2 linked regions of the Homo sapiens genome follow. The protein of the gene in region 1 interacts with the protein of each later gene in a biochemical or structural test. Each region holds a gene or a part of one and is shown on either strand. Other genes may lie near its edges.

Region 1 (3,500 bases):
ATAAAAAAAAGTTTTTAACTGCATTGAATTACCACATTAAACTGGGGTTTAAGAACCATACTTCTGTCTCACGTATATAATAACCCATAATCCACAATTTCATTATGTCTTCATGGGAAGACAGAATAAAATCTGCCACAAGGCAATTAACTCTTGATATTATCAGCTTGCCAATTAAGCAATGTTACCATTAGGTTGTTAAATCGGTGTTCAGGCAAAGTCACAAGTTTTCTTCTCATTTGCTTCAAATTCCTTCTCTCAAAAATGTAGTGAGGGCCCATGGTGAGTAATGCCCTACTACCCTATTTATTACTAACAATACATTTTCTTATTGGCTTTCCAGTGGTTTTAATTAGGCAGACCAACTGTACTATCATAATCATTCATGCCAATTCAGATCAATTCCACTGCCCTAGCTGTCAATTGATTGACCTAGTGCCTAAGTGATTCCTATATTTTCTAGTCTTTCTGAACTGACAAGGTGGGACAGAAGTACTCACCCAACATTTGCTTTTGCTCTTGAGGAGGGGCAGATGCCAACATGGAAGCAGTCAAAGGTTCCTGACCTTGTACATGAACAGCAGGCTAGACAGAAAATGAGAACTCTTAAGTTTAAAGCACAGAAAAAGATGGCAAATACAAATAGTCATCAATGGACATCTGCTGAAGTGGTAGACTTCCATCGAAACATGAGGTGGAGAAGTTGAGTGAGCGAATTAGAAAGAAGCCAAAGTAGTTATTATATACTATGTATCACAGATACATTTTTTTTCTTTTTGAGATGGAGTCTCACTTTGTCGCCCAGGCTGGAATGCAACGGCACAATCTTGGCTCGCTGCAACCTCCGCCTCCGGATTCAAGCAACTTTCCTGCCTCAGCCTCCCCAGTAGCTGGGATTACAGGCATGTGCCACCAAGCCTGGCTAATCTTTATATTTTTAGAGCTGGGGTTTCACCCTGTTGACCAGGCTGGTCTCAAACTCCTGACCTCAAGTGATCCACCTGCCTTGGCCTCCTGAAGTGCTGGGATTACATAGAGGTGTGAGCCACCACGCCTGGCCCATAGCTACTTGTAATAGTTGTTTCAGACCAGGCGTGGTGATTTAGGATGTGAATTTCTCGCTGCTTGTCCAATTCCAAAAGCGTAAGACATTTTACATACTATCATATTAGCAGAATGTTCCAGATAGGCTAAGCTCTCAAGAATCTATCATGCAGCTGTCTTCACATTTTTTCTTTTGAGACAGAGTCTTGCTGTCACCCAGCAGGGATTACAGCTTGCTGCAGCCTTAAACTCCTGGGCTCGAGCAATCCTCCTGCCTCAGCCTTCCTAGCAGCTAGGACTACAGGCTTATGCCACCACACCCAGCTAGTTTTCTTTGTGGAGACAGGGTCCTGTATGTTGCCCAGGCTGGTCCCAAACTCCTGGTCTCAAGCAATCTGCCTGCCTCAACCTCCCAAAGTGCTGGGGTTATAGGTGTGAGCCACTGTGCCCAGCTGTCTTCACACCTTTGATTTCACCCAAGAAATGTGATTTTTATTAAGAAATCATTAAATCCATACCTGTTGCATTGTAACTTGTGGCTGTGCATTAAGATGTTGCTGAGGATTGCGAACTCCTGCAGCATATTTATACTGTGGAACGGTGCGGACAGCAGGAGTAGCTGCAGCGGCTGCAGCTGCAGGACGTGGACCCATTGTCTGTGTTGATGTGTTAGCTAAAAAATAAGAACATTTTGTATTTTTATCTTGCTCTTTCAAATTGGTGATCAATTTTTAAAGGAAGGATTAAGACTCACCAACACGCTGTGTTGACATGACTCGTGGAACCTGTGAAGAAGCTGGTCTCATAGTACTAAATGGTGGTCTAGGAGCAGCTGGGCGGATAGCACCGGGCATATTTTGGAATGCTGCATTTTAAAGATGTGAATATACATTAACTGGGAAAACTTACTGAGTGAAAAGTGTTTATGCTGTCTTCTTCGATCTGAGGTTTGCATAAAAGACTAAAAAGTGACAAAACTTTTTAAAGCTGAGTCTTAACACTTGCCATTTTCCCAGACTCAGAGCATCAATAAGTAAAAACATTAATTCATACAAGGACGAGTACTTATATGTAGCGACCAGCCCCACAGGGTCGGTGGGCTTCTCCCTGTATGCAGCGACGAGAGAGTGCAGAAATAAAGACACGAGACACAGAGATTTAAAAAAAAAAGACAGCTGGGCACGGGGGACCACTACCACCAAGACGCGGAGACCAGTAGTGGCCCTGAATGTCTGGCTGCACTGTTATTTATTGGAAACAAAACACAAGGGGCAGGGTAAAGAGTGTGAGTCATCTCCAATGATAGGTAAGGTCACGTGGGTTACGTGTCCACTGGAGAGGGGGCCCTTCCCCGCCTGGCAGCCGAGGCAGAGAGGGAGAGGAGACAGAGAGAAAGACAGCTTACGCCATTGTTTCTGCATATTAGAGACTTTTAGTACTTTCACTAATTTACTACTGCTATCTAGAAGGCAGAGCCAGGTGTACAGGATGGAACATGAAGGCAGACTAGGAGCGTGACCACTGAAGCACAGCACCATAGGGAGACGGTTAGGCCTCTGGATAATTGCAGGCAAGCCTGACTGATGTCAGGCCCTCCACAAGAGGTGGAGGAGCAGTCTTCTCTAAACTCCCCAGGGGAAAAGCAGACTCCCTTTCCCGGTCTGCTAAATAGTGGGTGTTTTCCTTTGACACTTACGCTACTGCTAGACCTCGGTCCGCCTGGCAACGGGCGTCTTCCCAGACGCTGGCGTTACCACTAGACCAAGGAGCCCTTTGGTGGCCCTGTCTGGGCATAACAGAAGGCTCGCACTCTTGTCTTCTGGTCACTTCTCACTATGTCCCCTCAGCTCCTATCTCTGTATGGCCTGGTTTTTCCTAGGTTATGATTATAGAGTGAGGATTATTATGATATTGGAATAAAGAGTAATTGCTACAAACTAATGATTAATGATATTCATATATAATCATATCTAAGATCTATATCTGGTATAACTATTCTTATTTTATATTTTATTATATTGGAACAGCTCGTGTCCTCGGTCTCTTGCCTTGGCACCTGGGTGGTTTGCCGCCCACACTTATAAATATACCTGAAACATAATCATGATAAAATTCTAAGTGCTCCCAGCCTGGCCAACAGGGCAAAATCCCGTCTCTACAAAAAATTTAAAAAATTAGCTGGGCGTGGTGGCGTGTGCCTGTAGTCCCAGCTACTTGGGAGGCTGAGGCAGGAGGATCACCTGAACCCGGGAGGTGAAAGCTGCAGTAAGCCAAGACCATGCCACTGCACTCCAGACTAGAAGAAAGAGTGAGACTCTGTCTAAAAAAATAAACTCTAAGTGCTCTTGGAATATAACATACTGTTCCACAGGACAAGACATAAAATACCACGACTCTGATTCTCATACATGATTAAATGGAACGAGACCTTTAAAACTGTGGCCTGACAAAATATG
Region 2 (3,500 bases), on another chromosome or scaffold:
TTTCAGGCAGTTTTGTCAGTTTATGTATTACGTAAATGTCATTAACTTCACTTGATTGCATCTGATTGTATTTTGGAAAATCCTGGACATGAACATGTATTTAAGTCATTATTGCAAATTACAATAAAATCGTGCATGCATTAGTAGAGTACTACTTGTTGCACAACAGAAGTCATTGGAAGCGTTGCTGAGCAACCTCAGTGAGAACGAGCTACATTACCAATAAACATTTCTGGATCTTATTTACTTGTTTATCAAGTAGAACTAATTTCTTGCAGGACAGAAATTAGGAGCTCATTGTAGCCTTCATTTAATCCCACAAAATCCCCGTTAAGTGTTAAGTGCCCTTGCTAAGGGTAGATTCTTAAACTTAACACCTAGTTGATATTTGCTATTATCTAAATTATTAAAGTCAAGATTTGCTTAATGGTTAAGTTTTTTTGTTTTAATCCAGCTATGTTAGATACTAAAGAAGGCTTCCCCACAACCCATATGCATCTGCTTTGACTGGTGGTTTCTATCATCCTACAAAGACTGTGACTTATTGGTGAGGGCAGCTGGACAACTCTGAGAGCAACTTAGAGAAATCCATCTTGGGCACACTCTATAAAGGAGCTCCTTCTCTGCAAATAGCACCCCAGATAAGTGCACAAAAGCAAGATACCCTCGTGGACCTACACGTCCTCCCGCTTTTCAACACCCTGATGCCTGAAGGTGAGGTCTCTTTCCTGTGTGTCTTAGAAGCCATGAGCACGCTTAGGTAACTAGAGCCCTGCCACAGCCTGAGCAGCACAGCACACATCTGCAGGCTTTCCTGCCAGACCTTTACCTAAAGGTAATTTTTCTCATTAGGAGAGACTCCAGGTCAAGAGTGATGACAGTAAGGTTGCATTTAAAGCTGCATTACATTAAATAGTGGACTGGTCTAGTGATTATTTTCCCACACTGGGCAATATTTGCTTAATGATTAAGTTTTTTTGTTTTTGTTTTTGTTTTTTTTAATCCAGCTATGGTTGATACTAAAGGAGGTTTTCCCACTATCCGTATGCATCTTCTCTGTTTTGAGATTGCAACTATGGACAGTTATGGCTAATCCTAGTAGATTGTCTTCCCTTTTAACATCTTGGATGAATTTGGGTCACACTAATTGTTATGTGAAGATGGATGTTGAATGTAAGTTTCTCTGCCATTCTTAGCCAATATATAAAAATTACATTAGCCTAATTGCTAACAATGCCAAGAATTTAGGTTTACTATCCCTCTGGACAATGTAGCTTCTTGTTTTCTTACCATATAGATAACTCTATAGATTCACCCCAGCCAGTCATCTTAAAATACCTGCATAGGCAGCAGAGGTATCTGTGGAGAAAGTGCATGGGATAATAGGTACAGGGTGATTTTGGGAGTGATGGAAATATTCTGGAATTAGATATGGTGAAGGTTACATAATGTGGGTGAATACACTAAAAACCACTGAAATGTACAAGTGGTGAGTTTGAGTGCTCTCTGAATTATATCTCAAATTGTTAAAAAGTTAATTAAAAAATCAGTGTATATGAGTCCCTCTTACCATAGAGAGGGCTTCAAGCGCATGGCCTATTGCCAAGGCTCAGCAACAGTGGTTCAGTGTGGGAAAGCCTGTGGTTTGCGCAAAGCTCCTTGGTGCCCTTTTCCCAGCTTTCTCAGTGGCTTAGGCCCTGTGTATCTATTCTAGTTGAATGCCGCCATGTTATAAGTCTGTGGAGATGTTTTGAGATAAGAAATACGTATTCAGAAAACAAGTTTGAGACTCTTAGGTGCTGGTAATTATACTTTACCTTGTCTCCAACTTGATAGCCATTCCAGGGAACAAGCAGATTTTTAGCAATGCCTTCATAAGATGAATCATGTCTACTTCCTGGGGTGGGTGGGAGGTGGAAGAGAAGTTTGCTGTCCTGCTAAAATGTAATAGAGTCCATTCTTCAGGTATCGTGAGTGTTTTAAGGTTTACATGGGCATTTCTTTAAGGACAGGCCATGTGTTTTAGGCATTTAAAATGATATCAATGGCTATACTATATTAGTTCAAGTAATCACAACAAACTTTTTATTATTTCTCTATAAAATCCCTCAACTTTCACCCCTTTTTTCTTTGCCAGTGTGTAGAATTTGACAGCAGTATCAAGAGCTGAGGAGAAGGAGAAGATGGAAAGGAGTCTAGCAACTTAAAAATCTCACAGCATTCTCTGTGAGGTGACCTTTTTTCCTGTTGGTGGCTCAATTTCTTTAGGACATAAAGAAGATACTGAGGCCTGTGACAGCCTGTGACAGTATCATCAAGTCGTATCTGAACTTATTGAACTGTTTCCTCCCCTTCCTTATTCTTTATTCACAGTTTGCTTTTCATGTGCATAAGTTGACTCATTTGTTTCCTGTTAGCATTTGAAACACCATATAGCCACCATAAGTCCTGACAAAATGACTTTTAATAAGGAGGGGGAAGGTCCATGTCCCACCTTCCTATGAAATTTTGGCCTATTCACAAGTCTACCCCCACATAAGAGAAGTAGTTATGTTCTGTAAAGAAGAGGTTGATAAAAACCTTTAGCATGGTGTTTTGTGACTTAGAAGTTTTAAGTAGTCGTTCTTATATCTAAGCATTTATTAATTTTGGTAAGAACATTACTATACGTTTCTGATGTCACTTTTACTGTTAAGAGGTGCCAGGCATCTGGTGACCTGTCACTTCAGGATTTGTGTGAATCAGACCATCTAAATATAATATAAATTAGAGACTGGTACTTGTATTTCCTGATTAAAAACAAAGTAACGTCTGTTTTACTATTGAAGTAAGAGTACTTTATAATGAATACAAAAATGTATATTAAATATCCAGTAGAGCATGCTAAAGTGAACATTTCTGTTTTTATTTCAGCAACTTATTTTATGGTATTGTAGTTATGGCCTGTCCGAAACTCTCTGACATATTCTAAACAGCTTTCAGAGAGTCACTGAGGCTTATTTGCTACTACTGTTGTTTTTCCTTTAGCTCAGTTAAGAAATGTTTAGTTAGCCGGGCATGGTGGCTCACGCCTGTAATCCCAGCATTTTGGGAGGCTGAGGCGGGTGGATTGCCTGAGGTCAGGAGCTCGAGACCAGCCTGGCCAACATAGTGAAACCCCGTCTCTACTAAAAATACAAAAAACTAGCTGGGTGTGGTGGCGGGCACCTGTAATCCCAGCTACTAGGGAGGCTGAGGCAGGAGAATCACTAGGACCCAGGAGGCGCAGGTTGCGGTGAGCCGAGATCACGCCATTGCACTCCAACCTGGGCAACAAGAGTGAAACTCCGTCTCAAAAAAAAAAAAAAATGCTTAGTTAATAGTCAGCATGGTAGTTAAGAGTACTGACTCCAGGGTCACACCACCTGGGTTTGAGGCCCAGCTCTGTCAGTTACTAGCTGTGAGATCTTGGGCAAGTGACTTACCTCTTTGTGTATCAGTTTCCTGAGAATAGGAATATT

The links. Proteins that work in one complex are often made in the same cells at the same time.
Region 2: the proteins of PABPC1 (region 1) and UNK interact in a test that uses a peptide from one of them, tested with the Homo sapiens proteins (one large-scale study listed by BioGRID and IntAct).

What each region holds. Positions count from the first base shown.
Region 1 is NC_000008.11:100,705,089-100,708,588, forward strand, and holds part of PABPC1 (polyadenylate-binding protein 1), read right to left. Parts: intron 1,910-3,500; coding exon 1,799-1,909; intron 1,718-1,798; coding exon 1,563-1,717; intron 586-1,562; coding exon 501-585; intron 1-500. UniProt on the Homo sapiens protein: Binds the poly(A) tail of mRNA, including that of its own transcript, and regulates processes of mRNA metabolism such as pre-mRNA splicing and mRNA stability.
Region 2 is NC_000017.11:75,791,306-75,794,805, forward strand, and holds part of UNK (RING finger protein unkempt homolog), read left to right. Parts: exon of another isoform or gene 1-1,171; coding exon of another isoform or gene 1,172-1,173; intron 1,174-2,137; exon of another isoform or gene 2,138-3,500. UniProt on the Homo sapiens protein: Sequence-specific RNA-binding protein which plays an important role in the establishment and maintenance of the early morphology of cortical neurons during embryonic development.